Linked DNA regions of Homo sapiens: region 2 is linked to region 1. The links come from fine-mapping of genetic effects on gene expression. A gene starts in region 1. The other region holds a variant in brackets. All regions are shown on one strand. Distances are between the middles of the regions.

Region 1 (4,384 bases):
ACTCTCAATCCTCATTCTCAAAAACACCAAGAAGTTGAACCTGGCCTCCTCCCAGCCCTGAACCTCCTGGGTTTACAGAGCAGAGAGCTGGGCTGACTCTGGATCTCTGGCCCCCTGTTTTGTTCAGCAAGACCCCTTCCCTTTGTCTTGTTGTTCCTTGGGGCTAGGGTATCTCCTGGAGCTTCTGTATATTTATCTCTGTAAACGTCCTCTTCTTTTTTTTTTTCGGGGTCTCACTCTGTCTCCCAGGCTGGAGTGCAGTGGCTCGATCTTGGCTCACTGCAATCTCCGTCTCCTGGATTCAAGAGATTCTTCTGCCTCAGCCTCCTGAACACCTGGGACTACAGGCTCCACCCGGCTTTTTTTTTTTTTTTTTTTTAATTTTTAGTAGAGACAGGGTTTACCATGTTGACCAGGCTGGTCTTGAACTCCTGATGTCAGGTGATCCACCCACCTCAGCATCCCAAAGTACTGGGATTACAGGTGTGAGTCACGGCGCCCAGGCTTTGTACCCTCCTTTGTGTCTGCATATTTCCACATTTAGGAATCTTCCAAATTTGTCTTCCTACATTTTGGGGGGCTCTCTCTTTGTTCCTCTTGGGGCTCTTCTCTCTAAGAATACACCAGCCCAGCAGAATACCCCACGGACACTGGAGTAGGAGAAGGAGGAGGGCTTTCTTCCTGCCCCCATCCAGAGGTGATTGCTAACCCAAGGATGGTCACACCGTGTCAGGGCTCGGGCACGCGCGGGTCACTTCACATTCTGAGCACAGACGCCTGGTCGATGCCCTGCTGTCCCTCCCTCCTCCCAACCTCCCTCCGCCTGGCCCCCGCCCCCTCCGCCCGCCTGGAAAAGGCAAATTTGACATTTTTAAATCCCGAGCCTTAGAGGGATCGATGCGGCCCGGGGGCCCCGCCCGGGGTCGATATTCCTGATTGGGAAGCGGCCGCTTCGCGGAGCCCGCGTGTAAATCACCTGGGCTGGGGGAGGGGGCGTGGGGAGCCTACCACGTCCCAGGCTCGCGAAGCCAGGAGGGGTCGGGACCCGGGCGGTACCGGAGGGCGACGGAATGAGAACGACAGGCCTTAGAGAACCAGAGAGAAGCCCGCCCAGGGCCTCCCCCTCCCCCGCTCAGCCCTGCCAACTCCCCCAGCAGGCTCCAGTCTCGCTTCAGCGGCCGCCACCCTTCGTTGCCCCTGGAGCCGCCGGGGAGGCCAGTGTCGGAGCCAGCCATGCGGCGGCTCCTCTCTGGCCGCTCCCGCGGGGCCGGGGCTTCGGCGGCTGCTGTCACGGAGCCGACAGGCCGGGCCGGCCGGGAAGGGGCGGGTGGCGGGGGGGAGAGGCGGCGGGGTGAGGCTGGCTCAGCGCTGGCACTCAGTGGGCGCGCAACGTATGTTTGCCGAATTGAAAGGCTGGGACACCGAGCGGCGCAGGGCAGAGGGTCGGAGGGCACAGGCGGGGTAGGAGATGGCCCAGACCGGGTGAGGGCAGAAGCCTCACTCACGGGGGAAGAAGGCACTCGAGGTCGCTCTGAGGACCGCTGGGCTGGGATAGACCACCCATCCCCCGCCGGGGAGACCCGGGTAGTAAAGAACAAGACAGAATGGGACAGGCAGGACGGTTTGGACCCCACCTACAAGCGCCTCCACCACCCCAGCCTCCGATCCTTGTCACGCTCTGCTGGGGAAACCGAGGCAGCCGATGCTGAGAATAGCCAAAAAGTTAAAAGCGGGGTCAGCGACGAAGCTGGGGCAGCAACCAGAATTCCTGCGTGGGTTTTTTGGATTCCTCCGCCCACGCGGGGCCAGTTTGCGGGTAAATGCACCACCGCGCCCCGCACCACAGCTCAGACCCTTTCCTCTCGCTGCAGTTTGTCAGATCCCCCCACCTCCCACTCTGCACCAGTTTATAGAACAACAATTTGGGGAAAACAATCCGGGCGGAGTGACGGCCCCGTAATTGTGACAAAGTGAGTGCGGGCGGCTGGAGAGAGCGCTAGGCCGGGAGCGCTGCAGGGCGAGGCGGAGGCAGGGGCGCCTCCCCCCGCCCTGCCGCCCCCTCGTTCTTATTCCGGTCACCTCCCATCCCTCTCCTTGACTCTTCAATTCCTCTTCTCCCGGCCCCTTGCGCCTTCCTTCGCTTGTTCCTCCATCGCTCTTCCCTTTCCTCCCGGTAACAGCTCTTCTCCCGCTCCCCCGACCCCGTCGCCCCTCCCCCGGTGCGCTTTTTCCTCGCTCACTTCTCCCCTCTCCTCTGCCCTCCACTCGTTTCTTCAGCTTTTCCTCGCGCTTACATTGCCCTTGGGCCCCTGGCTCTCCCCGCACAATCCGCTTCTCTCCCTCCCCACTCCTCCCTTCCTGAGATCGAACCCTGAGCCCCTTCCCGACCCCCACTCTCTGGGCCGCCAGCGCAGCCCCGCATTTCTGGGTTCCTCGGGAAGTAAACCTGGGGGCGCGCTGCGGCCCCGGGTGCCCCGGCGGCCAGCCCCTTCCCTCTCCCTTGTATGGCTGCCGCCCCCGCCCCACCACCTGAGCCGGGAGATAGTTTGTTTGTCCAGCGGCGGCCGCCGCCGCCCACGCTGTTTGCAAAGCTTAGCGCGCCGTCGCGCAGTGCGGGCCCAATTAAGTCTCATTCATTATTCAGCGCTCCTGTCCGCCCCCGCCCCCCAGCAGTCTGAGGCGTCGCTTTGGGGCCCCTCCCAGCCTAGGCCCCTCAGTGAGCCCTAAGAGGTCATATAGAGAGCAGCATTTCCTCTCCAGGCCGAGATGAGGGCTGAGGGCGTTTGGAGGGAAGCGCTCTGCCTACTGCCGGGAGGTGACACCCGCGAGGCCGACCGTCCCCCGAAGCCCCCGCAAGTCCAGACTGGGGGACCTCGGAGATCCACGAGATTGCCAGAGAAGGAAATTGAGGCCCAAGAAGCTGCATGACTTAGCCAAGTTCACGGAGTAGAACCCGGGATTGGAGCCCGGGACATTGAAATGAAGGCGTCTTGCATTGCAGCTCCGTTGCAGCGCAGAGGCGCAGGAAGGCAGACTACCACGAGCCTCGGGCTGCGGCCTCGCCCTCCTGGTCGAGCCTCCTGCCCTCCAACCCTCTGCTCCCGTTTCTCCCTCTGGTTCATAGCCCGCGGGACAGAGCAGCCCTGGATTGGGAGGCTCCTCAGGTCTCAGGCTCAGGTGCAGAAGCAGAGCCCCTAACTGGAAGGCTCGGAGGTGGGCCGGTGAGGCAAGCAAGCCCTGTGGGGGGTTGAGGACAGCTTGGGTTGGATGTCCCTCACTGCAGCCTGTCCGTGGATGTCTCTGCCTTAAGGGAATTGGAGGTGGAACCATCCAGTCTTGAAGGTCAACGGAGCGTGAAGAGAGGAGCGTGCAGCTTGAGGTGAGGGAGGAGTCACCTTTCAATTTGTGGGGGTGGGAGGAGGTAATCAAGGACGTATTCTTGCATTTACAGGAGTTTATCCTTTTTTTTAGCACTACAGATAGGAGCGTCCCTTGCTCCTGCCAGGCAGCCCCTCCATAGGGGCAGTCCTGTGCTGCTGTGCCTCGGTACCCGCACAAGGTGTCTGGGGACCGCCCGGACCCCCCCTTCCATCGGCGGCAGCGCCACCTGGCGGCCATGGTGCGGTGGTGTGGGAGGAGCTGGGCCCGGGCTGGGCACTGAGCCCACCGGAGCTGCAGGCGTCTGCAGAGCCTTGCACCGAGTTTCCCCGCGAGGGCGGGCGGGAGGAGTCCCAGGCGGGAATGTGATCCCCAGGGGGCCGGGGAGGGCCCTGGGGAGGAGCCTGGCCTGGGGAAGCCGGACTTCCGTGACACAACAGACACAAAAGACAAAGTCCATTTGGATGGAAGTGGGAGCAGGGCGAGACGGGCCATTTTCACTCTGTGGTCAAAGGAAATGACTGGTCTGACTCGGTCTGGGAGCGGGGCACCCAGGTATGGCCACTTGATTTGGAAGTAGCGGGTGCTGGCTGGTGGTCGCTCCAGATAGAGGGGACACTGGCAGGCACGCTTGGCGTCCAGTTTGATATTGTGAGGATTTGTCCAGCTGCTGTGGAGTGGCTTTCCAAGCCGGCCTCCGAAAGAGGTGGTTGAATTGTGGGGTGCCAAGGTCTAGGTCAAACGAAGTTTTCCAGAATATTTTAATAAAGGGAATTCAGGACCCCTTTCAAGTTTGACCTGTGGGAAAATCTCATGGCCTGGAGAGTTAGGAAGGCAGGAGAGTGGCTAAAGCCTGGGCCAGGTGTGGGAGGGCAGCCACAGTTGGAGTTAAGTCAGGGGTAAGGCAGAGGCTTTCAAAATGTGTGGGAACTTTGGAAAAGCATCCAATGCAGCCCTGCCCCTCCACACATCCCCCCATGAGTCATTTGGGGTCATGGGTCTCAGG
Region 2 (4,384 bases), 60 kb after region 1:
AAGTACTATTTGGAAGTAGGGAACCTGCCTAAGGATTTGTGTCCTGACAGGTTCCAGAAACAGCTGTTGCTGGATGTGAGACTTGACTTTTGCTAGATTCATTCGTTCCAGTGGATATTTACTAGCACCTGCTGTGTGCCAGGCACTGGGCTAGATGCTAGAGATATCATGTTGAGCAAGAGACAAGTTCCTGCTTGCATGGATTTACAATCTTGCAGGGAAGACAATTAAACCAGAAATTACAATTTAACGTGGTGAATGCTATGATAGAAATTGTCAGGGTCCTTTGGAAGCCTCTAGTGAAAGGATCAGATTAGTCTTAGGTGGGGTAGGGAGGGAAAGAGTACAGGTTCTAGAGTTACAGACTTTTTTTTTTTTTCATTTTTTTTTTTTTTAGAGATAAGATCTTGCTCTGTTGCCTAGACTGGGGTGTGGTTGTGTGATCTTAGCTCACTGCAGCCTTGAACTCCTGGGCCGAAGCGATCCTTCCGCCTCAGTCTCCCAAGTAGCTGGGACCACAGGTGCATGCCACTATGCCCAGCTAATTTTTTGTAAAGACTGGGTCTTGCTATGTTGCCAAAGCTGATCTCCAGCTCCTGGCCTCAGGTGATCCTCCTTCCTTGGCCTCCCAAAGTGCTGGGATTATAGGCGTGAGCCACTGTGCCCTGCTTAGAGTAGTCATATTTAAATAGAGACTTGAAAGATGAGCAGAAATTAGCCAAAGAGAATAGGGGAGAATAGTTATGTGTCGAGCAGCCACAGGTATGCTGTCTTTGCCCCTCCAACTGCCAAACCTTGTTTTACCCAGGGGAACAGAGAACAGAGTCATCTGTTCTGATCACTGTCTTCATCCCCAACATTCCTATGTACCAGGGGTTGGTAAACTACTGTTCACGGACAGGTCAGATCTGGCCTGCTGCCTGCTGTTGTATGGCCTGCAAGCTAAGAATGGTTCTTATACTTTTAAGTGGTTGAAAGAATAAAAAGGAGAATATTTTGTGACACATGAAAATTATATTAAATTCAAATATCAGTGTCCCTGAAAAAAACTTGTGTTGGAACACAACCATGCTCATTTTTTTTTTTTTGTATTGTCTATGGCTGCTTTCACACTGCAGCAGCAGATTTGAGTGGTTGCAATACAGACTGTATGGCTTGCAAAGCCTAAAATATTTGGTATCTTGCTCTTTACAGAAAAAGTGTGGCACCTGGTTTAACCCATTATTATTATTTCATTGTACCATGTGTGTATGAGGATTATAATTAGCTACCATTCATTTTCTATGTGCAGTCTACCCTGCTAGATGCTTTACATATTTATATATAATCTTTTTAATAATTTCCAGAGATGTTGGTAACATGCCTAAAATTACACACTTAAATTTTGACACAGTGTCAAAATTTAAACCCAGATGTCTGAATTCAACATCTGTATTCATTTTACTGATCACATTGTGTTATAATTAATTGTTCATATGTCCATCTCTCAAAAAGAGACTTGAGCTTGGGCTGGGCACCGTGGCTCACGCCTGAATTTGCAGCACTTTGGGAGGCTCAGTTGGGTGGATCACCTGAGGTCAGGAGTTTAAAACACAGCCTGGCCAATGTGGCAAAACCCCGTCTTTACTAAAAATACAAAAATTAGCTGGGCGTGGTGACCCATGCCTGTAATCCCAGCTACTTGGGAGGCTGAGGCAGGAGAATCACTTGAACCCGGGAGGTAGAGGTTGCAGTTAGCCGAGGTTGCAGTGAGCCGAGATCACACCACTTAACTCCAGCCTGGGCGACAGAGCGAGACTGTCTCAAAAAAAGGAGGGACTTGAGCTTGAATGATAACTTACTTTTTCGTAAATGTCTACCATTTTTAGTACAGGGCGAGTCCAAATAAATGTTTATTAGACGACTTTC[G/A]TGTATATAATTTCATCTGCCTTCTAACAAACCTGTGAGGATAACACATATATAAATTTTTCAGATAATTGACATTTACTCTTTTGCATACAGTTTCTTCCATTTTAAATAACAATACTTTAAAACATGACATTTGAAAATTACATTAAATGTAACTAAAGATATTTGGAAAAATTTTGTTCTGTCAGAACAATGCCTTTGGTTTGGGAGGCCGAGGCGGGTGGATCACTTGAGGTCAGGAGTTCAAGACCAGCCTGGCCAACATGGTGAAACCCTGTCTATACTAAAAATACAAAAATTAGCTAGTCATGGTGGTGCATGCTGGTAATCCCAGCTACTTGGGAGGCTGAGGCAGGAGGATAGCTTGAATTCGGGAGGATACTGACATATATGTACAGTTGTTTGTATAATACCTATAGTAAATAATAAATAATCTTGGAATGCTAGATCTTTCTAGTTTTTGTAAACTTTTTTTTTTTTTTTAAAGACAGGGTCTCTTGCTCTGTTACCTAGGCTGGAGTGCAGCAGTGCAATCACAGCTTACTGTAGCCTTGACCTCCCAAGCTCAAGTGATCCTCCCACTTCAGCCTCCCCAGTAGCTGGGACTGCAGATGTGCACCACCATACCTGACTAATTTTTTTTTTACTTTTTGTAGAGATGGAGTCTCACTATGGTGCCTACTCTGATTTTGAACTCCTGGCTTCAAGCAATCCTCCCACCTTGGCCTTCCAAAGTGCTGGGATTACAGGTGTGAGCCACCACACCCAGCCTAGTTTTTGTCAGCTTTTTATGCTTTCTTTTCTGTTTACTCCTTTGTCAGCGGTCAGTGATAGCTGCTTTTTTCCCCCTATTTTAAATTTGCTACTTCTATCTTTTGGTGGATTCAGGAACTAGAACTATAACCCTATTAAAATTGTGTATAAAATAAGAGTTCCAAGATCAAGGCAGATTTGGTTAAAAAAAAAAAGTAAGAATTCGTCTTGATACTATCACCTGTGAATGAAGTGAAAGTGAGGCGTTCTTATTCTTAAGGATTTTATAACACAGTTGGAGAGAGCAAACATATACTGGGAACAATCATAATGTAAAATAATATTAACACCAAACTTGTGTATCCCACTGGCCACTTAACATCTCTATGTGCATGTGTAATAGTGGATATAATAGGCATCTCACACTTCATATGTGTCTCCACGCCTCTTTCATGGTCATCCCCATTTCAGTAAATAGACTATCCTTCCATTTACTTGGGACAAAAACCTTGGAATCATCCTTGATGCCTCTCTCTACATATCACATTTCATCTTGTTTTACTTTGAGAATACATACTGAATCTGACCACCCTCTCTACTGCTACCACTCAGATTCAAACTGCTGTCCTCTCTTTCCTGGATTGTTGCATTAGTCTTCTGATTGAGTTCTCTCTTTCTGTCCTTGTCTTTGTGTAGTCTTTTCTCAGCAGACCTCCAGAATGATCCTCTTAAAATTAAGTCAAATGAGGTTGTCACTCCTTTGCTCAAGATCTTCCAGTGGTTTTCCATTTTAGAGTAAAAGCTAAAGTTGTGACAGTGGACTAAAAGGTTGTACAAAGTCTGGCTTCAGTTTACTCCTCTGGCCTGATTTCCTATGACTCTCCACTGCTCACGTTCCTTTAGCCACAGCGGCATCCTTGCTGTTTTTCTAAGATGCCAGGTTGTTTCTTCTTCAGAACATTTGTGCTTGCTGTTACCTCTCCTAGAATGCTTTTCCTATGCAGGTAGCATGGCTTTTCCTCTTCCTTATTTCAGGGGTCAGGCTGAAATGTCACCATATTGGTGAGGCCCTGGCTCTCTATCGCCTTTACCCTGCTTCATTTTCTCTGTAGCACTTATCTGGATCTGATAGGCTCTGTGTGTATTTTATTTATTCAAATTTTAATTTAAAAAATGTTTTATTGCTATCTCCCCATAGGCTAAGACAGGGGTTGCCAAGCCAAAAATGACCTACTGCCTCTTTTTGTAAATAAAGTTTAATTAGGACACAGCCATGCTCATTCATTAACATATTGTCAGTGCAGCTTTTGCACCGCCAACAGCAGAGCTGAGTATTGTGACAGACCGTATGTCCAGCAAAGCCTAAAATGTTTGTTGTGTGGCCCTTGACAGAGTTTGTGGACTCCTTGGCTAGCACAGTGTTTGACACAAAGCAGACGACTGATTGAATGAAAACAATGTCAGTGTTAAATGGTAGGTTACAGACTGTAAAATGCTATATGAGTTAATATCTAAAAAGTTATTAGTTATTAGACTTTAAAATCAAGGATAATTTGGGAATATGTCAGCCATAATACTTTGTTCAAGCTGAGGTTCTTGAATGTATTAGCCATTACTACCTGATAGCAGAGATACGCCCGCTTTTCGAAGGCCACACCTAATTTGGAGATGATAGTATTCTTCTTTTTTTTTTTTTTTTTGAGACAGACTCTCACTCTTGTCA

Direction of the effects. Alleles are on the strand shown, and positions count from the first base shown. SD is a standard deviation of normalised expression in the study named.
In carriers of allele G in region 2, the expression in pancreatic islets of the gene that starts at base 2,716 in region 1 tends to be higher than with A alone (large effect, 0.85 SD a copy in PISA).

The links. PIP is the estimated chance that this variant, and not a neighbour inherited with it, causes the effect. A credible set is the group of variants that fine-mapping cannot tell apart.
Region 2: its variant is the best candidate, but not a certain one, in a credible set for the expression of DNAJC22 in pancreatic islets (PISA, PIP 0.68).

The regions. Positions count from the first base shown.
Region 1 is chr12:49,344,173-49,348,556 of GRCh38, forward strand. DNAJC22 (DnaJ heat shock protein family (Hsp40) member C22) reads left to right here and starts at 2,716. Exons shown (of 4, transcript NM_001304944.2): 1 at 2,716-3,379; 2 at 3,472-3,933. RefSeq lists silencers at 1,041-1,230, 1,261-1,360, 1,381-1,500, 3,533-3,752 and an enhancer at 3,415-4,358.
Region 2 is chr12:49,403,909-49,408,292 of GRCh38, forward strand. The region is part of intron 2 of SPATS2 (spermatogenesis associated serine rich 2); the gene reads left to right. Among named protein-coding and RNA genes, the nearest start is that of SPATS2, 39 kb to the left of the region's middle. The variant G/A (reference allele first, on the strand shown) is at 1,909.